7 separate regions of the Homo sapiens genome follow, and regions 1, 2, 3, 4, 6 and 7 are each linked to region 5. The links come from fine-mapping of genetic effects on gene expression. A gene starts in region 5. Each other region holds a variant in brackets. All regions are shown on one strand. Distances are from middle to middle. Region 1 has its middle 3.6 kb from the start of OR4B1. Region 2 holds the start of AGBL2 (AGBL carboxypeptidase 2). Region 3 overlaps PTPRJ (protein tyrosine phosphatase receptor type J). Region 4 has its middle 6.2 kb from the start of OR4X2. Region 5 holds the start of PTPRJ (protein tyrosine phosphatase receptor type J). Region 6 overlaps PTPRJ (protein tyrosine phosphatase receptor type J). Region 7 overlaps PTPRJ (protein tyrosine phosphatase receptor type J).

The links. PIP is the estimated chance that this variant, and not a neighbour inherited with it, causes the effect. A credible set is the group of variants that fine-mapping cannot tell apart.
Region 1: its variant is the best candidate, but not a certain one, in a credible set for the expression of PTPRJ in whole blood (INTERVAL, PIP 0.64).
Region 2: its variant is the best candidate, but not a certain one, in a credible set for the expression of PTPRJ in whole blood (INTERVAL, PIP 0.74).
Region 3: its variant is the best candidate, but not a certain one, in a credible set for the expression of PTPRJ in whole blood (TOPMed, PIP 0.62).
Region 4: its variant is the best candidate, but not a certain one, in a credible set for the expression of PTPRJ in whole blood (TOPMed, PIP 0.62).
Region 6: its variant is the best candidate, but not a certain one, in a credible set for the expression of PTPRJ in whole blood (TOPMed, PIP 0.83).
Region 7: its variant is the best candidate, but not a certain one, in a credible set for the expression of PTPRJ in tibial nerve (GTEx, PIP 0.82).

The regions. Positions count from the first base shown.
Region 1 is chr11:48,218,261-48,222,497 of GRCh38, forward strand. No RefSeq gene overlaps it. Among named protein-coding and RNA genes, the nearest start is that of OR4B1, 3.6 kb to the left of the region's middle. The variant CA/C (reference allele first, on the strand shown) is at 1,724.
Region 2 is chr11:47,714,002-47,718,238 of GRCh38, forward strand. AGBL2 (AGBL carboxypeptidase 2) reads right to left here and starts at 1,368. Exons shown (of 19, transcript NM_024783.4): 1 at 1,174-1,368; 2 at 617-749; 3 at 283-346. The coding sequence starts at 649. FNBP4 (formin binding protein 4) reads right to left here. Exons shown (of 17, transcript NM_015308.5): 17 at 2,493-3,511. The coding sequence ends at 3,421. RefSeq lists an enhancer at 1,046-1,105. The variant A/AG (reference allele first, on the strand shown) is at 1,630.
Region 3 is chr11:48,018,735-48,022,971 of GRCh38, forward strand. The region is part of intron 1 of PTPRJ (protein tyrosine phosphatase receptor type J); the gene reads left to right. Among named protein-coding and RNA genes, the nearest start is that of PTPRJ, 40 kb to the left of the region's middle. RefSeq lists a silencer at 642-691 and an enhancer at 1,772-1,831. The variant G/A (reference allele first, on the strand shown) is at 1,617.
Region 4 is chr11:48,236,825-48,241,061 of GRCh38, forward strand. No RefSeq gene overlaps it. Among named protein-coding and RNA genes, the nearest start is that of OR4X2, 6.2 kb to the right of the region's middle. The variant G/T (reference allele first, on the strand shown) is at 2,025.
Region 5 is chr11:47,977,917-47,982,153 of GRCh38, forward strand. It overlaps PTPRJ (protein tyrosine phosphatase receptor type J), which reads left to right and starts at 2,643. Exons shown (of 25, transcript NM_002843.4): 1 at 2,643-3,092. The coding sequence starts at 2,997. RefSeq lists silencers at 2,554-3,143, 3,244-3,673.
Region 6 is chr11:48,004,522-48,008,758 of GRCh38, forward strand. All of the region lies in intron 1 of PTPRJ (protein tyrosine phosphatase receptor type J), which reads left to right. Among named protein-coding and RNA genes, the nearest start is that of PTPRJ, 26 kb to the left of the region's middle. RefSeq lists an enhancer at 2,175-2,319 and a cis regulatory region at 2,238-2,255. The variant G/A (reference allele first, on the strand shown) is at 1,763.
Region 7 is chr11:48,074,158-48,078,394 of GRCh38, forward strand. All of the region lies in intron 1 of PTPRJ (protein tyrosine phosphatase receptor type J), which reads left to right. Among named protein-coding and RNA genes, the nearest start is that of MIR3161, 21 kb to the right of the region's middle. The variant C/G (reference allele first, on the strand shown) is at 2,467.

The DNA.
Region 1 (4,237 bases), 240 kb after region 5:
TTAGGAAGGAGGGCACCAATCTGATCTACAATGTTGACAAGTATGTCTTTGAAAATTACATCCAGGGACTTTTCTTTTCTTCTGGTTGGCTCCTGGTATCTTGTACCATGGACCATCTGACCATAAGCCCCAGAAAAGTCCCTGGAGCATTTTTAGTTCTTGTGATATGTTTTCACAAGAGATGGTCCTTAAATCTGTCTGGTCTTTCTCACAATGTCCAACATTTGTAAAAAAATAATATCAAAATGACATAGATTCTACTTATCACTATGGAAAGATCAAGTCAAATATTTTCACAAATACAGTGTTTCACAAAAACATTGTTAGTCTTATCCAGATGTGAAAAATACAAAATGTTAGAAAATGCTTATTAGGCCTAACTTAAAGAATGAAGGGGAGAGTGATACTGTCCAAGCATACTTCTACTCCAGACCCTGTCCCTTGTTCTAAGTGACCATGCAAGGCCATTTCTTTTAATGCCTATTAGTATTTCTTGGTGAAGGGAGATGAGATCGTCTGTGTCTGCACTTTTGGTTAACTTCTCAGCATCTCTGCCTTACCCCATTGTTTCATATAATTGTACATAATTTATAGAATATCATAAAGTTGTTCCCTGTTGGCTTTAAAATTGCACATATTGGCATTGAATTTGCACAACATCCTCTGCTTTTTCTTGAGAATCAGGTGAAATAATTCATGCAGCTTCCCTAGCAGAGGGATGGAGTATCATGGGTGTGCTATATATCTTAGGGCTTTTTCCTTTCTATTATAGGTGCTGGTTGAACACGTAGGTAAATAGTGGTTTTAAAGGCACCAGCAAACTTCTCACTTCCCTTAGTGTTCCCATTAACCCTGTCCATAGACGACCATCATTAATCCCTGAGAAAATGTTGCTGCTTCTGCTTGGAATGACTTTACTTCCCTTTTCTGTATGGCAAAATCCTATACATTCTTCAAGACCTAGGTTCAAGTCATCTTCCTTATAAGACCTTCTCTGACTTCCCTCCTCTTTGGGTTGAATTTATGTCTCCTTTCTGCAGTCATTTTTACATATTATTGCCCTATCACTTCAATTCTGATTATTTGATGTGTTTGTCTCTCAATAGACTGTAAGCTCTCAAGGGCAGGACTGTCCACTGTCCCTTCTTCTTTGCAGCTCTAAATATCATGCACATAGTTGATACTTCTTAAGTGCATGTGGAATAACCAACCCTTTAGGCTCATGCACAATCCTTGCTATATTAATTCTTATAGGTTCCTTTTGAACACTTTCATGGTGAGGAGCACATCTTCCTGTTGAAATTTTAAGAGCTCAGGCTCTGACATTTGTTAGGCTGTTCCAATTGCCTGTGAGCCACAACCCAGGATCCAAAGTACTTAACTTCCCTGAACAACTGTTTATGCATGAGTATAATGACTAACAATACTATGAAGTTTATAAGATTATTCTGGCTGGGTGTGGTGGCTCACGCCTGTAATCACAGTGCTTTGGGAGGCTGAGGCAGGTGGATCACTTGAGGTCAGGAGTTTGAGACCAGCCTGGACAACATGGAGAAACGCTGTCTGTACTAAAAATTAGCCAGGTATGGTGGCACGTACGTGTAATCCCAGCTACTCGGGAGGCTACGGCAAGAGAATCACTTGAACCTGGGAAGCGGAGGTTGCAGTGAGCCAACATAGCACCACTGCACTCCAGCTTGGGTAACAGAGTGAGACTTAGCCT[CA/C]AAAAAAAAAAAAAAAAAGAAAGAAAGAAAAAAAAGGGATTATTCTGAATATTAAATCAGATAATATACCTGCAAAGCTTTTAGAACAGAACATGGTCATCAATAAATATTAGCCATCATCATCTTCATCATTAGAACTGATTATTAATTTTATTTTGTGTGATGACTGCATCTCACAATGATCATTCTGTCCTGTAGAGCTACTCAGAATAGGCCTTGATTCCACCCCAAAAGTGTTCAAGCATTCTAAGGCAGTTCAATAGACCTTCTCTGTCGCATGCCACGTTGCTTCTCTGAACGTAAACATTCTCTGTTAGGCCATCTACCTGGTGCATCATAGGTACTCACTTAGTATTTGTTAAATAGATGTTGACTGTAAAATAGCTTCCCTATAATCTTTTATGCTAATGCTTTTATATCTTGTTAATGTATATTTTAAAGCATTTGCTCCAGAATGAAACACAGTGAAGGCACCCTTCCTTTCTCTTGATATCTTGCTTGTATTAAAGCAGGCTAGGACTTTAGGTTGCAGGTTGTGGTAGGAGTCCCTTACTCATGGGCAGGTTTGGTTTCCTCTCTGAGAACTATGGATAGAACACCATCAGTGAACTCTGAGTGGTTGGATACTGCACAGGCAGATAATATCTATTCTAATTGAATGGTCAAAATTCTTAAGGATCATGTCACCTACTCTCAACCCTCAAGAGAGTTGAGACTTAGGTCTGTTGAGAGCTGATTACTCACTTTGTTCTGGCCTTGCTGCAAGAAGCACATAAGTTAAAGGAAAACATTTTTTCATTGTTTTAAGAGACAGAGAATGTCATAAAATTTTAAAAATGTCTTCTCAATGAACAGAAGTAGTAATAATCTAATTATACCACTTAGCACTAGAGAGCATGTAGTTAGCTCTTGGTTGTTGATTTTATCACAACATTAAAAATGTATTTTTAAGAGAATCAATATAACATGCTTTCTTTAAAGAAAAACTAGTAGAGTGCTGTAAACTACTCAGATACATAATTTTGTATCCTTTGTCCATTAATTATTTGTATTCATTTAGGTATAGGTTTGACTGCATATAACAGGGAAAAAAGCAACTTTTAATGAGATAGAGTTAAAAAAGTTCAGAGGTTGAAAGTCCAGCTCTGATGGAGATATTCTATATCTGTGCAGTTCAATATGGCAATGCTTCTGAGCATTATGGTATAGGGAAAAAATATCGTAGTGTCTGTTGAGCACTTGAAATATGGCTAGTGAGACCCAGGAAGTGAATTTTAAATGTATTTACTTTAAATAAGTTAAGCCTCAATAGCCACATGTGGATGACATATTGGACAACACAACTCTAGCTTTGCATTTCTATTCCAGGGGACAGAAGCAGAGAAAGGAGGCGGAAAAACTGATCACTTTCCCTTTAGATTTTCCAAAAGTGCCATATAGCACTTTTGCTTTCATCTTGATAACGATTAGTAGCATGGTGAAACCTAATTTCAAAGGGGGCAGGGAACTATAATTTTTGTTTTGTTTGTTTTTTTTTGAGACAAAGTTTCACTCTGTCACCCAGGTGGAGTACAGTGGTGCCATCTTGGCTCACTGCAAACTCTCCCTCCTGGGTTCAAGCGATTCTCGTGCCTTAGCCTCCTGAGTAGATGGGACGACAAATGTGTGCCACCACGTCTGGCTAATTTTTGTATTTTTAGTAGAGACAGGGTTTCACTATGTTGGCCAGGCTGGTCTCGAACTCCTGGCCTCAGGTGATCCATCCCTGTCAGCCTCCCAAAATGTTAGAATTACAGGCTTGAGCCACCACACCCTGCCAACTATAATCTCTTATAGTGTGTGGAGTTGTGTGCAGTGAAAACTCAGGGTTCTGTTCTGTTCCTAAAGAGGAAGAGAATAGGTGTAAGGATTGGCGTATAGTCTCAGGCACTTTACACAATTTCCGTGTAATTAAAATTTTTTCATAAATGTGGTTTGCAATATCACAGAGTCTCATTGTTGCCTAATTCACTTAATTATTCACTCATTTCAGGGCTTTTAAGGTCATTTAATAATTTACTCAACAAGACTCACTGAGCATATATTACATGCCAGGTGTTGTTCTAGAGATGTGGTGGTACGTAGGCCAGAGACCTTTCCTGCCTTCATGGAGATTGCATTCTAGATAGACATTCTGTTTTCTGAAGCTGCTGTGGTCTGGATCAGCATTGCCAATAGAACTTTCCATGATAATGGAAGTGTTCTTATCGTGTGAATACACGCTAGTCCCTAGCCATGTGGCTACTGAGCCCTTGAAATATTTCTAATACGACTAAAAAATGAAATTTTAAATTTTAGTTAATTTAATTTTAATTAACTAAAATGTAGATTTAAATAGTCACACATGACCAGTGGCTACCAAACTGGGCAGCAAAAGTCTAGAGCCTTCAGTGTTTACTTCTGCTTCAAACTTGTACCTCTTAATCAGGGTCAGCAGCAAGACTGCCCTCGTCCCTGGCACAGTGAAGGCTCTG
Region 2 (4,237 bases), 260 kb before region 5:
AGTAATTAAGAGACAGTGATACTGGTAAAGGATAGCCAAACAGACCAATGGAATAGAGAGCCCAGAAACAGACCTTTGTATTAAGTGATGCTGTCTACTTGACAGAGGTGACCCGCAGATCAATGGGGAAAGGAAGTACTTTTCACTAATGGTAGAGGAAAAAGTATTTATTTGTCAATGCAAATTATTTATTAGTCTACCCAAGTGCAACCCTCCCAGCTAACGAAGCAATTTTCCTCTTGAGTCCAGGAAAGGTGATACTAGATAAGAACATGGTATTACCTTTAAAGTAGCCATAATATTGGAGGTGACGGTACATAAAGTCTTCATAAGGATCAGGAATAGTCTGTGAAAGGAAAGGCCACTTCAATCAAGATAATGTTTTCAAACCATAATAGACTCAACAAAAAGTACATGAGCGTTGTTGCATAGGACTAGACTAAACCAAGCGAGCTGCATTCCATGCGAATTATTCTATCGTGGGGATCAAGATCTCCAGCTGAGAAAAGATGCCACCAGAACATCCCTTCTCATCTAGTAGCAGATTTCTGTGGAGTTCCCGAAGAAATGGAGTTCCCCGAAGAAATTTCTGTGGCTTTCCGTGTTGTGTACCGACCTGCTTTAGGTGCGTTTCCAAAGCTGGGAACATGTTACTTCTGGATGGTAGGCTGAAAACTAGTCAGTGACATTAGCATCCAGTCGCAAACCCTGCCCAATTTCCAAATAGGCAGCTGATTACACAAGAGAAGCTACAAAGCCACAAGAGGACAAGTGAAAAAACTGCCAATACCTCCCCGGGCGCCCCCCAGCTCCCTCTTGACTTCAGAAAACCCTGCCAACCCAGCTTCTCCTCAGCTAAACAAGGTGGTCACGCCGAGGCCAGAGGTGCATCTGAGACAGGGAGGGCAGCGTATCTTCCCGCTTCTTCTTCCCAAGGTGCTGGCCCCATGCTTCCCTTTCCCTGAGAAAGGAGATGCTCGCCACAGGAAAGTGAAAGAAATGGGTATGGGAGCACGCGACGAAGTCGTCTCGGTAGGTGCCGATGGAAAAAGGTCAGGGGGTTGGGAAAGTGGGCCCTAAAGATTGAATTTAGGGTTCAGAGGAACCTGGTCTGGGGCAGGTGGTGAGGGGGTTTCCTAAGGGTAGGAGCGGGGAAGGAGAGCAGAAACTTCCCAGGAGGGCAGAGCGATGGATGCGACCGCCTTCGCGCCCCGGCCCGTCCCAAGCAGCACGGATGGCTGCGGCAGAGAAGCTCCAGCGAGGCAGGCGGCCACCGCACTTAAGTACAGAGGCCAAGCAGTGTGCGGGCAAGGGGACAAACTCGCTGCACCCGCCCGCCACCGCCTTCTGTGAGGGCCCGGGTAGTCTAGCAACCGAAAGCAGGAAGCGGAGAAAGGGCGGGGCGGTCGGGCGCTTCCGGGGAGCTAGGCCTCGCCCCCAAGGAGGGAGCGGGGACCCCGGGAAGGTCTGCAACATGTATGGCGGGCAGCGGCTTTCTTCCCCTCATACATCACAGCCCCAGCCTCGGAATCGAAACCGCATTGATGAGTACGATGCCAGTAGCCTTCAACATACTTCCAAGCTGGTTTGCTGTTGGCTTTAGATAACTGTTATGCATAATTTGCTCTA[A/AG]GAGAGCTGCTGCTTCTCTCCTTTCACCTTAACATTCTCTCCACTGCACAGCTAGAAAGGAAAAATTACCTTCTACACTGCAAATCTTAAGAAACAGAGCTAACAAATTCAAATCACACATTTTGATTAGGTTTAAAAAAATCAATTATATGCATAGAAATTTACTCCAGGCCAGGCGCGGTGGCTCTCGCCTGTAATCCCAGAACTTTGGGAGGTCGAGAGTTGGAGACTAGCCTGACCAACATGGAAAAACCCCATCTCTACTAAAAATACAAAATTAGCTGGGTGTGGTGGCGCATGCCTGTAATCCCAGCTACTCGGGAGGCTGAGGCAGGAGAATCACTTGAACCTGGGAGGCGGAGGTTGCGGTGAGCCGAGATCGTGCCATTGCACTCCAGCCTGAGCAACAAGAGCGAAATTCTGTCTCCAGAAAAAAAAAAAACAAAAAACCAACAACAAAAAAATAAATATACTACAATAAAATTCAAACACGTGTCTTTGGTTAACTATATATGAATATAACCGTATCTGTTACTTTTATCAGTGGGGGGAAAAAAGCTATAAAGCACCTTTTTTTCTGAAATGTTAACCATATTACATCATTGCCAGGAATTAAGTAGGTAAAATATTATCTAATATGGCTATTAACCAATCTAGATATTATAGATAATATTAGACCCCAAAACTTTGATCACACAGCACCATCTGGGACTAGAAGCCTGTTTGTCTAAACTGGCCCCACCACTCCCCATTAAAGATCTCCTGCTCATTTTCTTGAAAGCTGTTGTTAAATGTTTGCACCTTGCATTGTATATGCTTAGAAAAAAAAACAAGTCCTGGTTACATAATCAGAATAACAGGAGTTGACGAGCAAAAGGATAACCCATCAGGATTATAAAAAAAGCTTTATTAGTGCATATATACAAATTTACAAGGTCAGAAACTGGAGAAATACAAAGAGCTTTAAAACACAATTTGCCGTTTCCTCAGTTTAAAGTGACTTTTACCTGATTGTGATACAACAGAAAGTACAGAACAGTAAACTGCTTTTTAAATACTGGAATTTTATGGAGAATACATTCACATAAAGAAAGGAGGTGAATTTTGTTTTGGAACAGGGTTAAGACAATGGAGACATTAATACATAGAGTGTCTTGTTGTATTTACTGCCACATACTTGAGGGGAAATTCTCAAAATCAAGGATATGAACACCTGCTGCTGCCTGTATGCCACCTAGTGTGCGAAACGACCGAGCTACCAGTTCTAGAACTTATGAGAACTACTCTAAAGAGTGTGGCCATCTATCAGCACGAGGTAAACCACTTAGACCTCAGCACTTCAGGGGTGGCCGACTAGAGAAAAGAGGCCAGAAAAAGCTTCAGACAATTCCAGTCAAGCAAGGTAGAATGCAGAGCTGCCTTCTGAATTGCACTTGTTCTGGAGGAGAAGTTAATTCTTCACTTTTGTCAGGGAGTCCTCTACAGAAGTGTTATACTCATGAGCCACATGTTCTTCAAGACTGATGAGGTTAATACACCTAACATGCTAAGTTTGCCAGTTTGAGAATAAAGGCAGCATGGTCAAAGCAATTCCAATCACCTCATCCCTTTGCAAAAACAGAAAAATTACATTTCACAAAAGTGAAAACTTTGTATGCATACACTCTTGCCCAGGAAATTTATAAGATCTCCCCCATAACATTTATAGTTTATTTGACAATAAAACTGGTTAAGACTTTGAACTGAACACAAAACAAACAATAATACAAAAAAGTTTTAAAAACTTAAAAACTATGTGTTTGGAGCCATTTTCCTTCTCTTCAGCCTTGCTCTCCAATCCTCAGGAAGGGCTTCAAAATTAGCATTTCTCTCTGCCATGCCACTGTGAAAACAACATACAGATTATTTTAGTGGAAAGAAAAATTAACAAAAGTATTCATTTCCCAGCAAATAAAAATCTAACTGAAATTAAAAACCTGATCTATCACGTCTATGTTTATGAAAATCTTTTGTTTCTCAGCCAAACATCAGTATATTCTTCATCAAACTTCTTCATTCTGATAGGTCAACCAAACACTACCCCAGTTTTACGTATATGTCTAAGTGCATATTTATTTATTTATTATTGACTGATTGAGACGGAATTTTGCTCTTGTTGCCCAGTCTGGAGTGCAATGGTGCGATCTCGGCTCACCGCAACCTCCGCCTCCCAGGTTCAAGCGATTCTCCTGCCTCAGCCTCCCCTCAGAGTAGCTGGGATTACAGGCATGTGCAACCATGCCTGGCTAATTTTTTTTTTTTTTAAGTAGCGACAGGGTTTCTCCATGTTGGTCAGGCTGGTCTCGAACTCCCAACCTCAGGTGATCTGACTGCCTTGGCCTCCCAAAGTGCTGGGATTACAGGTGTGAGCCACCGTGCCCGGCCTTATTTATTTTATATAAATATACCTCCAATAACCATTAAAGGCACACTGAAGAAATGAAACACGTTCTATTAGAGTTTTTCTTAGCCCACAGGAGTTATGATTCTTCAGGGCAGATATATCTAATCCTCAGTCTACCAACAGGGACCCTGGGATCTAATGTTTTTTTTTCTGTTTTTGAGATGG
Region 3 (4,237 bases), 41 kb after region 5:
TCCCTTTAGTTAGACTTGATGAGCTTTGGATTTGAGTAAGTGACAGCCCCTTTTATTTCCTGCTTTGTTCTCTCCCAGGTACCAGTTGACCACAGTTTTCATTCATGCAAATGGAAGCTGACAGCTGCCCAGGGAGGGTTAGATACCTGGGAGGATAGAGCAGAGGCCCTCCTTCTCCCCGACCCCTCGCCTCTGCAGGCTGGTGGGGAGGGGGGCAGGGGAGTCGAGTTACCCTCTCTCCACGCTTTCTTCTTGTGTATGTGTGCGTGTACGTGCGTGTGTGTGTTGTGTGTGTGTGTCTTGGGGGATGGAGAACCCCTCTCAGGAGGGCCTGTGGAAAGGCTGGGGTAAGTGGAGTGAGCCCGTGGGTCCTGCCCTTCCAGGCTGCCAAGAGTTTAAGTTGCTGCCTCCCGGTCTCTGTGCCCTTTTCCTGCCTGTGGAAGGCCCTCTCTCTGTTTAGGAACGTGGATGTGGCAGGGGCTGGGCGGGCACTTGGCCTTTATAACAACAGAAGAGGATTTTCAGTGACGAGGAAGCATCCCGCCCTTCTGGTTCCCTGTCTTCCACCTGGCCCCACTGCGACAGCCTCTCCAGGCCTCTGACTTCACTAGAATCTGCCCCTCCACCCCACCTTCCCCCGAACCCCACCTCCTTTCTCTGAGCCTGAGAGGAGTTAATTGTGTTAGAGTGCACTGAGAAACCTCCAGGAAGGGGCCCTAGTCCCTGTGTTGCCTGTTCAGCAATCACATTTGCTCACGTCTAGAAAGTACAATATAATGACTCAGGTTAAGGGGTGAAAAAATGTGGTGGACATTTTGCCAGGGTACTGTGTTAACTGTTCCAAGGTATCACCCTGTGTGAGACTCAGGAACATTCAGTGTTTTGGTTTCCCCCCTATTGTACTGAATGCCGGCAGCTTTCCCCTTCTAATTATTTATCTTAATAATTTGAGGAAAGTTGATTTGCTTTTTAAAAACTGGCATCCAAGCGTACCCTATCGCACTGCACACAGCTGAGAGATTAAGGCAGTTCTTTAGAATTCCTAGTCCGTGTTGTGTACACAGCGATAGGCTGGGGTAGTGGTTCTGGGTGCAACTGGGGACAGGCGAGGAACCATAAATTTGGCAGGAAAGATTTGTGTTGGTACCCTGTTATATTTGCTTTGCATCACATATTGTTTAAAAAGAGCGATATTTTCGTTAAAGGAAAAGGAACTGTGTATTTGAGATAAGAAGTAGAATAAAATGAAATGAATAGTTGGGTTTCGTCCTGTGGCCTTCAAAATGGCGTTATTTCTGAGATCCCTGTTTCTATGCTGTTCCAGTATTTATACGGAACTTATAAAATACAAAGTATAGGCATGTCCCGAGATCCTGGCGAGGCTGTAATTTATAGTGTTGTTCTTTTTCTTTTGTTTTACAGAGCTGAGTTTGGTGAAACTTCAGGAGGTTTTAGCTAGTGGCGATCCAAAGACATTAAATATTGCTTTGTGGGTACGTCTCCACCTTGCGTCTTACTTGGTGACTGTTCAGTGGTAGGCAAATGTCAGAACCCAGTATGCAAATGTGGAAGTGGACAGATTTGAGTCAGTTATCTCAGCTGGTGTTATGAAATAC[G/A]GAAATTTTTGGCGTTGGTGGTGGAGGGCGTTGGCATAGGAGGCGTGAATGCTCTTTGTTTCTTGCTGTTATGGGAGTATCTCTTGATTGCCCCATCATCTTGTTTGGTGTGGCCCCGTTTCCTTCTAGAAGTTGAGTTCCCTGGGCTTGTGAGAACCCTTGTACATCTGCCTCCATTAAACTCACATTTGGAGATCTCGTAAATGAACGCAGTGCAGTCCGGGGGCAGAGTGAAGGCTCAGACTGCAGCCGGACATGGCTCAGTTACCCTAGGTGGGTTAGCAGCTGAGCAGGTACTGGTCTCAAAACCCTCTGAAGCGAAGCTGCCTGTCGATTCCACAGTTGCCAGCTTCCAGCATGGAGCTTCTGGAAGTATCACGGACTGAGTTGGGTCCCAATGCTGGATGTCCCTACTCTTCCTCCTGCCCCTCCCACGTTTGGATGGGCAAATGCACTAAGAACAGCCCGTGGGCAAGTGAATGAAACCAAAAAGCAGCAAGGGATTTGGACAGTCCACCTCAGAGTATCTGACTTTATTTTGAGGGGCATGTGTCAGAGTTGGGTGAAGAAAGAGATTCTCAGATGGAGATAGAGAAAGATCCCCAAAAGGGCAGGCTGGCTACCAGTGATTTATTTTTATTTTTCTTACTTTTTTAAGAGAATGCAGGGCATTTTACTCTTCTGTGGTAGGAGAGTAGACTGGCCACAGCCCAGCCCAGAACCCTTAACAAAAGGTTAAGCTGCTGGGCATGGTGGCTCACGCCTGTAATCTCAGCACTTTGGGAGGCAGAGATGGGTGGATCACCTGAGGTCAGGAGTTTGAGACCAGCCTGTCCAACATGGTGAAACCCTGTCTCTACTAAAAATACAAAAATTAGCCGGGCGTGTTGGCATGTGCCTGTAATCCCAGCTACTGGGGAGGCTGAGGCAGGAGAATCGCTTGAACCCAGGAGGCGGAGGTTGCAGTGAGCCAAGATCACGCCATTGCACTCCAGCCTGGGCGGCAAGAGCAAGACTCCGTCCCTAAAATAAATAAATAAATAAATAAATAAATAAATAAATAAATAAATAAAATAAAATAAAATAAATAAAAAAAGAGGTTAAGGTTTATACGCAGGCCATTTCTAATAGATGTTATGGAAGCCCCAGGTTTTGGGGCATCAGGGTTGGAAAGGAAGCCAAAAATGGGTGTGTCCAAAGGACAGATGCATTGAGAATGGGTTGTAAAATTTCAGCCATTGTGTAGATTAACCAGCACGGCACCCTGCCCCTCAGCCATTGTGTAGATTAAGGAGCACTGCACCCTGCCCCTCCTCCCCCAAGCATGCAGCACCTGAGAAAGAAATCTGACAAAGATGCTTTAATATGAGTCTAGCGCTTTGAGCCTTTCATTGTCATCTCCAGTGCAATTGTCTGTGGGTTTTGTTTTGTTTTGTTTTGTTTTTTCATTTTTATTGGACTTTGCTTTGCCTTTTAAGGGAAACTCTGGATGATATACTTCATTATTTCACTTGTCAGATGGTTAGTAATATGGTATTGCCATTCCTGACCTAAGGCAGCAAGTGATTCCTTCTGGCAAACTCTTTAAGAAACATGGGCATGGAGCCTGGCTGCCTGAGTTCAAACCCCTGCTCTGCTGCTTACCAGTTGGGTGACCTTGGTCAAGTTACTTAATCTCCGTGCCTCAATTTCCTACTCTGTAAAATGGAGATAATAATAGAACCTGTGTCATTACATTATTGTGGGAATTAAATGTGTTAGTCTACGAAGAGGGGTGCCTCAGGCCCATGGTAAATTTTATGTAAGTGTTGGTTGTATATAAGATGATGAAGTCCGGGCGCGGTGGCTCATGCCTGTAAATCCTAGCACTTTGGGAGGCCGAGGCAGGCAGATCACCTGAGGTCAGGAGTTCGAGACCAGCCTGGCCAACATGGAGAAACCCCGTCTCTACTAAAAATACAAAATTAGCCAGGCCTGGTGGTGCATGCCTGTAATCCCAGTTACTCAGGAGGCTGAGGCAGGAGAATCGCTTGAACCTGGGAGGCAGAGGTTGCAGCGAGCCGAGATCGTGCCATTGCATTCCAGCCTGAGTAACACGAGCAAAACTCCATCTCAAGAAAAAAAAAAAAAATTAAGATGATGAAGATGCAGCGTGGGGCCATGAGAAGAGTCCTGGTCTGGTGAGTTTGGAAACCTGGCTTCTGGCCTGTTTCTAACACTGTATGTCCTTGGGCCAGACCCTTTCCCCTGGGGTGCTGATTTCACACCTGTAAAATGAAGAAGTTTGACTTGCACAGTGCTTTTCTTAGACTGTGGTAAGGGGTGGATGTGGGGGTAGTGCCAAGACCAAGTGAAAGAGGCTTCTGGACCTCCATCCTTGCTTCAGCCAGAGCAGCGTGGGTTCATTTCATTTTTGGATTTTGGTTTGTGGGAAGAAAGGGTTCTCTTGCCGGTGTGTGTGTTTCTGATAAACAAAGAAGTGTGGAAGTGGCTGAATGAGATGACCCAAGGACTCTTTCTGGGAAGATGCAGGAGGAAGTAGGTGAGCTGAGGGGAAGCTGGTGGGGATAGGCCTGGTGGGGCCTGGGGAGAAGGATTTGAAGGCTCAAGTCACACGGTGC
Region 4 (4,237 bases), 260 kb after region 5:
ATGTATCCTTGGGTTCTGGTTCTGGCCAATTCATTACAGATAAATTTGCCAAATAACAATTTGTTAATTTAACTGAATTACCACATAACTAATTTACTGAACTTTTGATTCCTCAAAACCTATTTCTGTTAATCCTTTGTAAAATCTATAGCACTTATGTTTTGCAGATGCCTGCAATAAGCGATGTATTTGGGGGAGGAGGATTTTTGTGTATTCTCAATTTCAGTTTTCTGGTAATTAATGAATATCAAGGATTTTATATAAGTTTGTTTCACTCTTCCAGTGAATTTTCAATCTAGTCAACTGTCTTTCTTATTTTTCTTCATTCTTGAATTGACTTTTCTCAAGAAAGGGACCCATGTATACGTAACAGATGAGGAATTTTACCTGGATATGTTTTCACGTGTGCTAACCAAACTTACCTGAATCAGATTGAATGATCCGCCCCAGTTCTTTACTTCTTCTTTTGCCTGTGCCCTGCTCCTTGTAATTTTGCAGTTCTTCCCATCAGAAGGAGTGTATGTTTCCATCCCCTGACTTTAGGCTTAGCCATGTGACTAGCTTTGGCTAATGGCATGGGTGGGTGGAAATGACAATGCCTCAGTGAGAGCCTAGGCCTTACTAGGCCTTGTGTATTTTTGTTTGCCCCCCTGTGTCTCTGCCACGATCATGAGATGATAGGCAGCAGCTGCACTACAGCCTGAACTGCCAAATGAACACATACGGAACAGAACTTCTCTAGCCGACCCACCAAACTGCAGCCTGAGGAAGAGCTTCCCCAGCTCACCTGCAGACCCATGAACATGAGAATAAATGCTTCCAGTTGCATGCTGCTGAGGTTCTGTGGTTGTTAATGTTACACAAACTCTTTAGACTTGACCTGACAAATATGCATATCAAAGGAGAATAGAAAAGTCAACGTACTGGACTAAAAGTGGTTAATATTTATTAGACCTGGTACACTTACCTCATAGTTCTTTACAATGATTTTGCTGAGCATGGGCATTGAACATGTCCTTTCTGCTACCTTGAGGGCTTTGCCCTTGATTTAACTGTCTGGAAATTGTGTTTGCAAATTTCTGCCAAGTTGGCATAACTCAATTGCTTTTCTTTAAGTTCAATGGATTTGTTGATCCAGACGTGTTGAATGCTGACTTTGTGAATGTTTTACAATCCAGATTCCTTAGAGCTTCTTAATTAAGAGGAAAAGGATTAGCTGAGATTGGAAGTAGAAGCACATCTTTCGTGAATTGATAATTCAGTGGACTGGCCATTTGCCTGATAGCAAAATTGCTGAATTGGTTAATCTTGTGAATTGACTGTTGGTAATTTGACCATCTGGCAAACTATAGTTGGTGAATTGATTTTAGGTGAATTGCTGCTTTTGCACTTCGTGTGATGAGTGACAGGTGGTGGATGCTCAAGAGCTGTGGAAGGAATAAAATATATCAAAATGATGTCGGCATTATTAGTTTTTATCATTTGGGAAGGGCTTGAGCCAGAAGTGAGATTGCTTGAAGCAGCCAGAAAAGAACTTATTTGAGAGCTCGAAATAGTGTTCATATATTGTCTTGCAACAAAAAATACCAACTGTCCAAACTAATACATGAAATCCATATTTGAACTTATTAATTGATATACCCTATATTTGCATAATACCCTATGCATATTTCAAAGCCCTTTCACATTCATTACTTCATTGGCGTCTCATTGTAATCCTGTGATGTCAATGAAATATGAATTAATCATTCTCAATGTACAGTTTTAGATGAAACATCATTTAGATTAGGTTTTAGCTGCAAGGATCAGAATCTAAACCAAGATAGAAGTCAAGAAGTTCACAGTCTGGGATAGAAATGTTCTCTATCTTGTTTCTCCATCCTTTATAGTATTAATTCCCAAGGTCACTGCATGGCCCCAAATGGCTGATGGAGCTCCAGTCATAATGGCAGCATCCTGTTATCCAAAAGCAGGAAGAGATGAAATAAGACATGTCCCCTTCCTTGAAGTTTCAAGGGAGGCTG[G/T]GTAATGTAATTTTCATTCCAGGTAGGCATGTGCCCTCATAAAAATTCAGGGATTCTAATACTATAGAAGGAAGAAGGAGAAAATAATAATTAGGAACACTAGTGATTTCTGCTCCAGGGTAAATCAAGCACAAAGCGTGGGCACAAACTCAGATATTCTGATTCCCAGACCAGAAGTTTCCTTCATTGTGGTTTCCCATCTCAGTTAGGTTTTACTTTATGAAAATAATTTTGTTTAGTTTTTACTTTAAAAAAAGTCGACAGATAAAATTGTATTTATCATGTATGACACATTTTGATACACACACACACACACACACACACACACTCATTGTGGAATAACAAAATCTAGCCAATTCACTTGCATTACTTCACAAAGTTATTGTTTTTGTCGTGATAACATTTAAAATATATTCTCAGTAATTGAAGTAAAATTTACATTCAGCAAAATGTACAGACCTTAAGTGTACAATCTAATGAGTTTTGACAAATTTATACTTCTGTGAACCAACTTCCCAACAAGATGCAGAATATTTCTATCACTCTGGAAACTTCTCTTGTGACTTCTTCCAGGCAATCTCCTCCCCTCCTCAGGCAGCTACTGATCTAATTTCTATCATCATGAATTAGTTTAACCTGTCCTAAGCTTGTTTAAATGAAAGCATGTACTCTTTTTGTATCTGGCTTCTTTCACTTAACATAATATTTTTGGGATTCATCCATATTGTGGGTTATGATTATTTTTATTTAGTGAGTAGCATTCCAAAATCATGTGTATATGTAAATATACATATACGTGTGTGTGTGTGTGTGTGTATACACATTTTTTTTTCTTGTGGTGGTGGATATTGGGTTGATTTCTTTTTTCTTTTTTTTGCTGTTATGAATAGAAGCTGCTAGAAACTTTTACATTCCCATTTTTTTCTACTTTTATTTTAGGTTCTGGGGGTACGTGTTGGGGCTTGTTACATAGGTAAATTGCGTGTCACTGAGGCTTGGTATACGAATGATCCCATCACCAAGGTGGTGAGCACAGTGCCCAATAGGTAGCCTTCCAACCAACACCCCCACCCACCCTCCCCCCTCAAGTAGTCCCTAGTATCTATTGTGCTCATCTTTGTGTCCAACCGTTTTCAATGTTTAGCTCCCACTTACAATTGAGAACATGTGGTATTTGGTTTTCTGTTCCTGTGTTATTTCACTTCTGATAACAGCCTCCAGCTGCATCCATGTGGCTGCAAAGGACAGGGTTTCACTACTTTTTTATGGCTGTATAGTATTCCATGGTGTATATGTGCCACAGTTTCTTTATCCAGTCTACCACTGATTGGCATTTTGATTGATTCCATGTCTTTGCTATTGTGAATAGCTCTGTGATGAACATACAAGTACATGTGTCTTTTTGGTAAAAAGCTTTATTTTCCTTTGGGTATATACCCAATAGTGGGATTGCTGGGTTGACTGATAGTTTTAAGTTCTTTGAGAAATCTCCAAACTGCTTTCCACAGTGGCTGAACTAATTTACATCCCCACCAACAGTATATAATTGTTCTCTTTTTTTCTGTAACCTTGCCAGCATCTTTTTATTTGACTTTTTAGTAATAGCCATTTGACTAGTATGAGATAGTATCTCATTGTGGTTTTGATTTGCATTTCTGTAATGATTAGTGATGGTGAGCATTTTTTCATGTATTTGTTGGAGACATCTATGTCTTCTTTCAAGAAGTGTCTGTTCATGTCCTTTGCCTGTTTTTAAACACATTTCCACTTTTTTAAAAAAGCACATACTGATATTTCATTTTTCACTGCAAAATAAATTTTCACGTGGAGGAATGCGTATAGATATAATTTTAAAAGAAGGATCTGTGTATTTTTTTTTTTTTTTTGAGACAGAGTCTTGCTCTGTCAGCCAGGCTGGAGTGCAGTGGCATGATCTTGGCTCACTGCAACCTTCACCCTGCCAGGCTCAAGCAATTCTCCTGCCTCAGCCTCCCAAGTAGCTGGGATTCCAGGTGTGTGCCACCATGCCTGGCTAATTTTTGTATTTTTAGTAGAGACGGGGTTTCACCATGTTGGCCGGGCCAGTCTTGAACTCCTGACCTCAGGTAATCCACCCGCCTCGGCCTCCCAAAGTGCTGGGATTACAGGGTTGAGCCACCGCGCCCGGCCAGATCTGTGCATTCTTTCTAATAACAGGATTTAATTATAACTTG
Region 5 (4,237 bases):
GAGAAAACTGAAGGGCGTGCAGGAGTTCACAGAGCTGTTTGCTGACCCAAGCCATGAATCTGTGGAGACCTGGGTCGGTCTTCAGGGTTAGTAGGGTCTGTAGGGTCTGTGAGGATCCGAGGCAGCCTGCAGACCTACTATCATCTTCTTTTTCTTTTTTATAATTGGCAATCATCCTTGGCTACCCAGTAGCATCTTTTTTTTTTTTTTTTGAGATAGAGTTTCACTCTTGTTGCCCAGGCTGGAGTGCCATGGCGCGATCTCTGCTCACTGCAACCTCTGCCTCCTGGGTTCAAACGATTCCCCTGCCTCAGCCTCCCGAGTAGCTGGGATTACAGGCATGCGCCACTACACCCAGCTCATTTTGTATTTTTAGTAGAGACAGGGTTTTTCCATGTTGGTCAGGTGGTCTTGAACTCCCGACCTCAGGTGATCCGCCCACCTTAGCCTCCCAAAGTGCTGGGATTATAGGCGTGAGCCACTGTGCCCAGCCCCCTGGTAGCATCTTAAATCAAGCTTTCCTTCCCTCTGGGTATCATGGACATGAACACCTTTTATGTCTCTGCCTCAAGAGGGGAGGAGGCACAGAGGAACAAAAATCCTTGTGAATTATGATAATTACATAGTGTTTAAATGAAGGGTGGCAAGGTGTGTAAGTCCATAGGTAAGGTTTCTTTTTTCTTTTTCTTTTCTTTTTTTTGAGATGGAGTCTCACTCTGTCACCCAGGCTGGAGTGCAGTGGTGCAATCTTGGCTCACTGCAACCTCCGTCTCCCGGGTTCAAGCGATTCTCCTGCCCTCAGCCTCTGGAGTAGCTGAGATTACAGGCACGCCATCACGCCCAGCTAACTTTTGTATTTTTAGTAGAGATGGGTTTTCACCATGTTGGCCAAGCTGGTCTCGCACTCCTGACCTCAAGTGATCTGCCTGCCCCGGCCTCCTGAAGTGCTGGGGTTACAGGTGTGGTGTGAGCCACCACGCCCAGCCTCTTCTTTTTTTTTTTTTTTTTTTTGAGACAGGTTTTCACGTTATTCCCCAGGTTGGAGTGCAGTGTTGCCATCTTGGTTTACTGCAGCCTAGGTTCAAGCCATCCTTGTATCGGCCTCCCAGGTAGCTTAGTCTACAGCTGTGTGCCACCACACCCGGCTAATTTTTGTAGAAACTGGGTTTCACCCCGTTGCCCAGGCTGGTTTCGAACTCTTGAGCTTAAGTGATCTAGTCACCTTGGCCTCCGGAAGTGCTGGGATTACAGGCGTGAGCCATCGTGCGGCCTGGCAAAGTTTCTTTATCCTCAGTGCTTGTCTGGGTGTGTTGTCTGGTGGGAACCACTTAGACCCTGTAAGTGAATGTGTATTCCCATCTTGTAGATGGTAACCTGAGGCCCAACGGGTGTCTGGAGGTAGTGTTGGACACCTCGTGGTCTGCATCTTGCTGCACACAGAATCCAGCCTAGACTCATTATCCTGGCCTTTGAAGTCTCCCCCAGTATGAATCCCCCAGCCTCCCATTCCTGTTTCTCCGAAGGCCAAGCTCGAAGCATCTGCTGCCTCGTTTCTGCCAAGTTGGCCCCACCTCCTGAGACACTTCTCCCCTCTACTGGCCTGGTGAAACTCAACACATCCTTCAAAGCCCAGCTCAGGTGTCACCTCTCTCCTGGTTGGAATTAACCTCTTCCTCCTTAGCACTCTCTGGTTTGGCCCTTTCTCTTGCGGCTTCTCCTGGGCAAGTGGCATAGCCTCCCTGATCCTAGTGTCTTCCTCTGTGCATGGGCACAGGAGTAATATCTGCTGTGATCTTTAACTCCTGTCAGTTCATTGACCTCTTTAACAACGTGATGAAAGCTTCCAGAAGAGCTAATGTATGTGGAGTCCCACGATGTGTCAGGCTAGGTGTTTAGGACTTTACTAACTACTGTCTCGTTTAATCGCGAATGCAGTGGACCTCTCTCTCCACACGTCCTAGTACGATCTTTATTTCACACGGGAGGAGAGGAGGGTGGGTGGGGTCGGCCAGAGAGGAGAAATGCGTCTCCAGAGTTCACAGGGCTGGTACTACCAGCAGAGCCCCGTCCACCATATGCCACAGCTGGGGTTCTAATCCCTGGACTGGCTTGTACTGGGCTCTCTGCCTCCCTGGCCGGCGCTCGGGGGCTGGGGGACAGAACACAATGTACAGCGTGCCTTCTACAATTTCGGGGTTCACGCACCCCCAAGCCCACCCAGGGCCAGGTCAAACGCGCCTTCGCCGGGTTGCTGTCTACAATCAGGCTTGGCTGCGCTCTCAGTAGGGGTCTCGGTCAACCTCTGCCCACCCGAACCCGGCGCCGTGGACCTGGTGTGAGGCTGGGGAGCCCGTCCTGAGGGGTGCCGGCTCGAGGCGCTAGAGCCACGGAGCCTGGTCCCGGGCTCCAAGTCCCAGGAATGTGGGAGGGCTGGGCGGAGGGGCGGGCGAGGCGGGAGCGCTTCCTCTGCCCGCGGGAGGGGATCCGCGGCCGGCTCGGAGGGGGCGGGGGCAGCGGCGGGCGGCGGCGAGGGGCTGCGGAGCTCCGCAGCCGCCGGGCCGGCCGGGGCGGGAGGAAGCGATGAATATTCAGAGGGGGAGGGGAAGGGAGGGGGCCGAGCGCTCGCCGCGGCTCCCTGCAGCAGCCCCAGCCGCATGACGCGCGGAGGAGGCAGCGGGAGCAGCCGCGGGAGCCGGGACCGGGTAGCCGCGCGCTGGGGGTGGGCGCCGCTCGCTCCGCCCCGCGAAGCCCCTGCGCGCTCAGGGACGCGGCCCCCCCGCGGCAGCCGCGCTAGGCTCCGGCGTGTGGCCGCGGCCGCCGCCGCCGCTGCCATGTCTCCGGGGAAGCCCGGGGCGGGCGGAGCGGGGACGAGGCGGACCGGCTGGCGGAGGAGGAGGCGAAGGAGACGGCAGGAGGCGGCGACGACGGTGCCCGGGCTCGGGCGCACGGCGGGGCCCGATTCGCGCGTCCGGGGCACGTTCCAGGGCGCGCGGGGCATGAAGCCGGCGGCGCGGGAGGCGCGGCTGCCTCCGCGCTCGCCCGGGCTGCGCTGGGCGCTGCCGCTGCTGCTGCTGCTGCTGCGCCTGGGCCAGGTAAGCGCCGGGTGGGCTCGGGCGGGGGGCAGGAGGCTGGGGCGGGACTGGCATTGACTGCACCTGCCCGAGCGTACCCCCCCGGGGGGTTCCGGGGAAGGGGGCGGGGGTCCGGATCCCCGGATCCCCGGAAGGCGACTTGCGGGGACCCCGGCCGGCCTCGCACGCCGGCGATCGATCCCTTTTCCGGCTGCCCAGGATCGGGGGAGAGAGGCGGGATCCGGGTGCCGCGGTGCCCGAGCCTCCCGGGGAAAGCCTCCGCGCGGGCTCCAGGCCGTCCCTGGCCCGGCTCTTCCCGGCGCTGGGCACATCTGGCGGGCACGGGCCCGGCTTCCTAGCCGGAGGCGGCCGGAGGGGGCGTGTTTGCGGAGGTCTGGGGACGCAGAGCCGGGCGGCCTGGCTGAGCCTTTGCCGACAGACCTCCGACCCGGCCTGCAGGGGCCCGAGGGGCGGCGGGGGCGACAGGGCAGGGCCAGGCGCTGGGCAGTGGGGCCCTGGGCGAGGCGCGGGACTCCGGGCCGAGGGCCCTGTTCCTGGGGAAAGTTCCCAGGCCGGGGAAAAGGTGGCCGCACGCTGGCTTTTCTCAAGGCAGCCGGCCCTCTTGGCGTCGTGCTTGATTTCATGGGTGTTTAATTCGTGCTTTGTGGGCGCTGGCTCCCCCTCCCCACCCCACCCTCACCCTCTTTTCTGGCTTCACTTTTCAGATAATGCTGTCCCTGGCGTTTTGGTGACCGACCTTTCCCCTTCCTGGCATTTCCATAGGGGCTGAGGCAGAGCAGCTGAAGGGGCATTCCCATTTCACAGATGGGGAACTGAGGGAGAGAAGTGAAATAGCGGAGCACCCAGCCCGTGCCATGGGAGCTGAGCCAGCGGGCACGTCCTCTTAGCCTCTGGAGCCTGTTGGGGTTTGAACCCGCAGGGGAAGCGGTCTAGGGCTGCCTTGCTGTGCGTTTCTGCAAATGACCATCTTGCTTGTTTTATACAGACACCATCTCTGAGGAAATGAGTTATTGGCTGGGGATGGAACCTGGTTTCAGGGAAAACTTCTCCAGCGCGAATACAGGAGAGAGCAGAAGCATCACCCTGGGGCAGCAATGCCGCCTAGCAGGCTGTAGGAGAAGGGGGCTGGGGCCTGGGGGCTGCGT
Region 6 (4,237 bases), 27 kb after region 5:
TGGGGAGATAGATGGGCTGGTCAGAGTTTCAAGTCATAGGCAGTGCAGGCCTCAAAGGAACAGCCAGGACTTGAGACAAGAATCAGGCCAAGTGAGTAACTGTTGCTGCTGTGGCAGTGAATGTTAGCAGCCCAGGCCTGCAGGGGGGAAGACTCATTTGGGGTACAGTGAGAGGTCTTGCTGGGCAAATGCAGGGTGTTTGCGGCAAGGTAGGCTGGGGCTGGACTTGGAGGATGCCTGCGTGATTTAGATTCTATCTTGTAGAGAATGAGGTATCATGGAAGGATTTTCTTTTCATGTTGTAAATATTAATCATTTTATTGTTTTGTATTTTTGATGGCAATATAAAAATACCAGCTTTGTTGAGATATAATTTACATACAGTAAAATTCATCCATTTAGAAAGTATACAGTTCAAAGCTGGGCGCAGTGGCTCATGCCTGTAATCTCAGCACTTTGGGAGGCTGAGGTGGGTGGATCACTTGAGGTCAGGAGTTCAAGATCAGCATGGCCAACATGATGAAACCCCGTCTCTACTAAAAATACAAAAATTAGCCAGGCATGGTGGTGGGTGCCTCTAATCCCACCTGCTTGCGAGGCTGAGGCTGGAGAATCACTTGAACCTGGGAGGTGGAGGTTGCAGTGAGCAGAGATCATGCCACTGCACTCCAGCCTGGACGACAGAGTGAGACTCTATCTTAAAAAAAAAAAAAGCATACAGTTCAGTTGTTTTTAGTATATTCAGAATTGTGCAACCATCACTGCTGTCTAGTTCCAGAATATTTTCGTTACTCACAAAAGAAACCCCATGCCCACGAGTGCTCACTCCTGATTTCTCCCTCCCCCACCTCCTGGCAACCACCAATTTGCTTTCTGTTTCTGTGAATTTACCTGTTCTATGTATTTCATGTGAGTAGAATCATACACTGTGTGTCCTTTTGATTCTGGCTATTTCGCCTAGCATAGTGTTTTCAAGGTCCATCCATGTTGGAGCAGGTATCACTGCTTTGTTCTTTTTTTATGGCTGAATGATATTTCATCACAGAGAGATACCATGTTTTGTTTATCCTTTTATGAGCTGATGGTCGTTTGGGTCATTTCTACTTTTTGGCTATTGTGAGTGACACTGCTATGAACGTTTGTCTACCAGTGTTTGTGTGGCCACGGGTTTTCAATGTGGGAGGATTTTGAACTGGGGAGTGGTGTTTGGAGCCTTTGGGTGGGGTGGGCTGTGAGGAGCCTGTGTGTGTGTCTGCCCTTACTGGGCTGGGTTTAGGGCAAGCTTCATGTGCTTCCTTTCTTTTAAGGGACTCTCTGAGACAGGGTTATTATCCCCTTTTTGCAGATGAGGGCACTCAGGCTCAGTGAGGTTAAATAAGCTGCATGGCTAGACAATGGCAGATAGCAGCCCTGTCCGGCTCTTAGCCAGCTTGCAGCCACCTGCCCCTGCTGGGCCAGGCGATTGCAGTGGTCTTGGCTGGGAGGGGCCCAGAGGCTGTGTGGTGCTGGAGAGAGGCAGCAGGCTGGACCTGGTTGGGCAAGGCTGAGTGGTTGTGGGATAAGAGGAGATGTTTCAGAGCAGCACCCACAGAACCGCTGTGATGGGAGAAACAAGACTTCGAGTTAGGAGAGTGGGTTGGACTCTTGGTGCAGCCTATGTGACCTTGGGCTGATCTTGTCTCTTTTGAGCATCACTTTCCTCATCTGGAACCTGGGGCTCTTGTGGCTTCCTGCCTCTCTCAAGGGTGATTCGGGAGGAAGA[G/A]TGGGAGAGAGAGAGAGAGAGGGAGAGGATGGAGGCGAGAGAGGTGGAGTGGGAAAGGAGGGCAGAATCTGCTAGAACCTGCAGAGCTCATAATCTAGGGGCGGGGAGGGACATGCAGCAGGTGCAGGCAGGTGTGGGAGGAAGTAGCCTGGTCATCTGGATGGACATCCCTGCCCATTCAGAGAAGCTCTGAACCCTGCAAAAGCTCCCACGTGGAGGCCAGTGAGCTGGTTATAATCCAGAGACTGTCAGTTTTTCCTAGTACATATTTGGACCTGAGCCTTTGTTTCTGCAAAGAGTCTGGTACTGACTCACACAGTGTCAGCAGCCCCCTTCCATCCCCTGGCACACCCCTCCCTCATTCCTACTGAGCATTACCTTAAAACCAGTGAGGTCTTTCTGGGTCTTAAAGGTCACCCAGTGTCCTTGCCTATCTGGGCCTGTCTCTGTTCAAGTGGCAAGGCGGACCATCCCCTTTATCACTGACTTGCAGCTTGCCTGGGTTTTGTAAAAAGCTTGTCATTGCCAGTTAGAAAATAAAGACAGAAACCTCCCCTTTGGCATTGGTATCGTGATGACTTGCTCTTGTTCTGACTCTATTTTGCTGGCTTGTTATGAGTCAGTCATTTTTTTTTAATGAAATGAATACCTTTGTCTTAATATGAAGCTAGGCATATATGATAAAGGTTAGATGATTTTTCAAATATGAAATCAGAATTCTACCCATACTCCCAAATTAGAGAGCAGTCTGATGTGTTCCCCTTTACTGTGACCAGTGGCTTCATAGGGGACCTAGTTATGAGTCCTGTTTCTTTTTTTTTTCTTTTTTTATTTTGAGACTGAGTCTCGCTTTGTCTCCCAGGCTGGAGTGCAGTGGCGCAATCTCTGCTCACTGCAAGCTCCGCCTCCCGGGTTCACGCCATTCTCCTGCCTCAGCCTCCCGAGTAGCTGGGACTACAGGTGCCTGCCACCACGCCCGGCTAATTTTTTGTATTTTTTTTTTTTTTAGTAGAGATGGGTTTTCACCATGTTAGCCAGGTTGGTCTCGATCTCCTGACGTCGTGATCCGCCCACCTCGGCCTCCCAAAGTGCTGGGATTACAGGCATGAGCCACCACACGGGGCCAGGCCTTTTTCTTTTCTTTTTTTTTTCCTCACTGTGTCACCCAGACTGTAGTGCAGTGGCACAATCTTGGTGCAACCTCCGTCTCCCAGGTTCAAGCGATTCTTGTGCCTCAGCCTCCTGAGTAGCTGGGATTACAAGCATGTGCCACCACACCTGGCTAATTTTTCTATTTTTAGCAGAGATGGGGTTTTGCCATGCTGGCCAGGGTGATCTTGAACTCCAGACCTCAAGTGATCTGCCCGCCTCCCAGAATGCTGGGATTACAGGTGTGAGCCACTGCACCCGGCTGAGGCCTTTTTCTTCTGTGCGTTCCTGCTGTCTTCCCTCCAGGCAGCAGCAAGCTGGTAGGAGCTGTACTTGTGAGTTGACATCATGATGTACAGTCACTGGTCACTTATAAAACTGGGCAGGCCCAGAGCAGGAAGGGTCATTGAGGGTCATCTAATGCAAACCGTTTACTTTAGAGATGTTGAAACCAAGGCGCAGAGAGGGGAAGTGACTTGCCCAAGACCACACAGCTAATATCACTGTGAGCCCAGGTTCCTGGCTCCAGTTCCTGGTTCTTTCTGCCCCCTTCTTCCCGACACTAAAGATACAGTGGTGAGCACACAGGGTATTCAGTAACGTATCTATTTTTGACCTGTTTTTAATGGAGGCTGAATTGGGCTTTTAGGGTTGAGTTCTGACACGTGCCAGGTGATCTGCTGGAGGGAAATCTGTTACTTCTGGGGAAGAGTTGAAGGTGTCTTCTGAACTCTGGAATCTGTTTTGAGGGGAGGCTGAGCCCATGCGTGGACCCTTAGGCTGAGCCCATGCCTGCTTCAGATGTTCCACACCTTTCACCACAATTTATTTATTTATTTATTTTTTGAGACGGAGTCTCGCTCTGTGGCCCAGGCTGGAGTGCAGTGGCGTGATCTTGGCTCACTGCAACCTCCGCCTCCTGGGTTTAAGCAATTCTCTGCCTCATCCTCCCGAGTAGCAGGGATTACAGGCATGTGCCACCACGCCCAGCTAATTTTTGTATTTTTAGTAGAGACGGGGTTTCACCATCTTGGCCAGGCTGGTCTTGAACTTCTGACCTCGTGATCCAACTGCCTCGGCCTCCCAAAGTGCTGGGATTACAGGCGTGAGCCACCATGCCTGGCCTATTTATTTATTTTTTATTTTTTTGAGTTGAAGTTTTGCTCTTGTTGCCCAGGCTGGAGTGCAATGGTGTGGTCTTGGCTCACTGCAACCTCCGCCTCCCAGGTTCAAGCGATTCTCCTGCCTCAGTCTCCCAAGTAGCTGAGATTACAGGCATGCGCCACCACGCCCGGCTAATTTTTGTATTTTTCATAGAGGTGGGGT
Region 7 (4,237 bases), 96 kb after region 5:
TTTGTAGAGATGGGGTTTCACCACGTTGCTCAGGCTGTAATTTTTAAAAACTAAAAAAAGAAAAAAAAGTGTTTACAGGACTTTAAATTGAGAAACTTAAATATCTTTACATATTCTGTGTTCCTAATTTATTTTTGCAGCAGTAATTATTTCAGCTGTCTTTAGTATTGACATGTTGGAACCTCGGATTAATTTGTGCATGGATATATTTAGAGCCTTTTACTTGACAAGAATCATGTATATCATGACTGAATTTGTAATTTCCCAGCATGAGACCCAAATTAATAGACAGTATTTAGATTCTAGGCAACGATGCATTATATAAACCAGCATCATTTAGGGAGTGGCAAAGACTCTCTCCCCACCAGTTCTGTGAACTTGGGCAAGGTGTGTAATCTTTCTGAGCCTTAATCTAATTAGACCCTTTCTCCTGTAACCCAGAGGGGGTGTTAGTAAAGTTGGTGTGAAAAAAGTCAATTATTGTACTGATGCAATTTGGGTGAAACTGTGAAGTTCAGTGTTCACATGATGGTTGTGGAGACACTGAACCTTAATCCTTAGGCCAGGGATTCAAAGTTTTTTTTGACTCTCATGTTGAACGTTGTCTAAAGTGCAGTGTGCCCTAGTTTTTAGGTAATTCTGAGAATTCTAAGGCCCTTGCTGGAATAATTAATGAGAATATGAGATTTCAGCAAATTAGGGCCAGGAGTCAGTGCTCTCAGCATGGAAGAATCTCACCTCCAAAAATTTTATGTGGGTTTTACACATTAAGCAAGCATAGGTGAGGTGCAGTGAAGGGGAAGTGATGGCTGTCAGTCGTTTGGCCAGGTTCCTTTGCATACAGGGGAGCTAGTGGGTGTATACCAGCTGAGACAGCTGAAGGAGGAGAACATGAAGAATAGTTGGAAACTATTGAACCTCCAAGATTTTTCTGTCTTTGTTAACAACTAGCAGTTACATGCTAGCATTATTTATTTATTTAGTTAGTTAGTTAGTTAGTTCTTGAGATGGAGTCTCACTCTGTCACCCACGCTGGAGTGCAGTGGCATGATCTCAGCTCACTACAACCTCTGCCTCCTGGGTTCAGGTGATTTTCCTGCTTCAGCCTCCTGAGTAGCTGGGATTACAGGGGCCCGCTACCACGCCCAGCTAATTTTTGTATTTTGAGCATGTTGGCCAGGCTGGTCTTGAACTCCTGACCTTGTGATCCCCCTGCCTCGGCCTCCCAAAGTGCTGGGATTACAGGTGTGAGCCACTGTGCCTGGCCTTATTTATTTATTTTTGAGACAGGGTCTCACTCTATCACCCAGGCTGGAGTGCAGTGGTGCAGTCATAGCTCACTGCAGCTTGGAACTCTTGGGCTGAAGTGATTCTTCTTCCTTAGCCTCCCCAGTAGCTAGGACTATAGTGCCACCATGCCTGGCTAATTTAAATTTTTTTTGTGTGTGTGTGTGTGGTGGAGATGGGTTCTCACTGTGTTGCTCAGGCTGGTCTTGAACTCTTGGGCTTAAGCGATCTTCCCATCTTGGCCTCCCAGAGTGCTGCGATTACAGGCGTGGGCCACCACACCTGTCCTGTGCTAGGCTCTTAACGTCCTTCCCAGATGTTATGTCCCTTCCCTTGGTGGCTGCTGCTTTCTGCCACATTTTACCTTGCCTTTCCGCACCTTCTACCATGTCTCCTTTTCCAGCCTCATTCCCTGAGATGTAGCCGGAGTTCCAGTTCAGCCAACCTGCCCGTTGTTTTCTCTCCTGGAACTGGGTGTTTGAGCCTCCTGCATGGAGTGTTCTTCCTTCCCAGCTAAAGTCCTGGTCATCCCATTTCCATCTGAAAGGCCCCCTTGTTCATGAAGCCTCTCATGGTCCTTCCCCCTACCCCAGCCAGGTATACTTTCTCTCCTCTTGGAATTACCCTATAGGAAGAACATGGTGGCTTGACCTGGGTTCCAGTCTCACCCATCTGTTTACCTGGGGAGTGATCTTGAGTGGGTCAATTTATGTTCTCAGTGCCTTACAAAATGGGGCAGAGGATACCTAACCCCCAGGAGCTGGTGTGGCTGGGGTACCTTACACAGGGCCTGACTGTAGTAGCTTCTCTCCAAGCATTGGTGTCTTACCTCTTCTGTTTCTCTAATGGTGTTTTGCACATTCATTGTTGTATTAGAGTTTGTTTTTTTGTCTTACCTTGTTTTAATAAATTATAATCTTATGGGAGATGACACTGTCTTTTCTTTGTTTCATATATAAAAAGTGTTTTGCTGATATACGTAGAATCAAGTTGGTCTGGAGTTACTCTGGATAAGGGATGAAATCAGGGAGCTCTTGTGTTCAAAGGGGCCTTCTTCCCTTTTTTGGTTCTTTCTCCTCATTTTTTAGCTTCCATTTTTACTTCCTTTAGTATTGAGAAAGTACCAGGCTCACTTCAAAGAGTTGACTTCAAAGCTCCCACCAGCTCAGACATACTTGC[C/G]ACTGAAGCCTGTAGGAATTGGCATCAATGGAAGACCCTGTGGCGGTTGCATTTAAGATTTTTTTTGGGACTTCTATTTTTATAATTCTTTTAAATGGTAAAGGGGGAGGGTTACAAAATATCTGCGCCTTTAAGATATCAAACATAAGCCAGTGAAGTTCCAAAAAAAAAAAAAAAGATGTCTTAGAGAAATGAAAAGGATTTTACAATTGGTAGAAAAGAACAACTCTTTTTTCTTTTTCTTTTTCTTTTTTTGTTTTTGAGATGGAGTTTCGCTCTTGTTGTACAGGCTGGAGTGCAATGGCGCCATCTCAGCTCACTGCAACCTCCACCTCCCCAGTTCAAGTGATTCTCCTGCCTCAGCCTCCCGAGTAGCTGGGATTACAGGCACGGGCCACTATGCCCGGCTAATTTTGTATTTTAGTAGAGACGGGGTTTCTCCATGTTGGTCAGGCTGGTCTTGAACTCCCGACCTCAGGTGATCCACCTGGCTTGGCCTCCCAAAGTGGTAGGATTATAGGCATGAACCACTGTGCCTGGCCAAGTCTTTTTTCTTTAAAAAAAAAAAGGTTACTTTTACTGTTTTGTCCTAGTTACAAGATCTTAGGACAGAAATAAAGCCTTAACTTGTATGTAACATTTTCCAAGATGGCTAAGTGGAGTTGCAGGTTACATAGCAGAAAACAGAGGCTTGGGCCTGTTGAGACCTCACACCCAGTTCTTCTTGGAGCTGTGGGTGTGGGCTGAAAGAGAAGACAGGGAGATTAAAGACCAGTGATTTCCCTCCATGGACCCTTTGATGCTCTTGTTTGTTGACTTTTTGAGGCTTGGAGTGACCGACTCTTCCAGGAATGAGAAATGGAATCCCTCCCAGTTTTGATGGTCGTCCCAGGACATATTTCCTGAAGGCCTACTCTGTGTCTCAGCACCATTCCAGGACTCCCCCCGACAGCCTTACGGAGCGTGCTACAGTCTTCCTGATCCAATATCCTGCCACCTGCCCACTCATTCACCCTCGGCCCTACCCCATGCCTTTGCACGAATCTTTCCAGCCTGAGCAGCCTGAGATGGGTCTTTTTCCCTGCTCCGAAATCCTGACCTCATAATGGCTCATGAATCCCTATTCAACCTTCAAGACCTGGTTCAAGGGTTAAATCCTTTAAGGAGACTTCTCCTGATTTTTCCCCAGCTGGTTGCTTTGTTCTCCAGCGATTTGTAACCTTGTGAACAAATATTCTACTCATTTTATTCTACTGGAATGATCTATTTACACTTATCTCCCTGCAAATTGTATCCTGCCCTTCAATGGCTAAGTGAATGGCATAAACAGATGCTATAGGAATTGAGACTAAGTTGGAGCTGGGTGATCAGGGAAGGTTTTAAGGAAGAGATCTGGGACAAATAGCTAAAGATGGATTCAGTGTTTTTTTTTTCTTTTTCTTTTTTTTTTTTTGAGGCGGAGTCTTGCTCTGTTTCCCAGGCTGGAGTGCAATGGTGCGATCTTGGCTCACTGCAACCTCTGCCGCCCAGATTCAAGCAATTTTCCTGCCTCAGCCTCCCAGGTAGCTGGGATGACAGGAGCCCACCACCACGCTTGGCTAATTTTGTGTTTTTAGTAGAGACAGGTTTTCACCATGTTGGCCAGGCTGGTCTTGAACTCCTGACCTCAGGTGATCCACCCACCATGGCCTCCCAAAGGGCTGAGATTACAGGCATGAGCCACCGTGCCCGGCCTGATGGATTCAGTTTATGTGCAAAATTTAAGAGGATG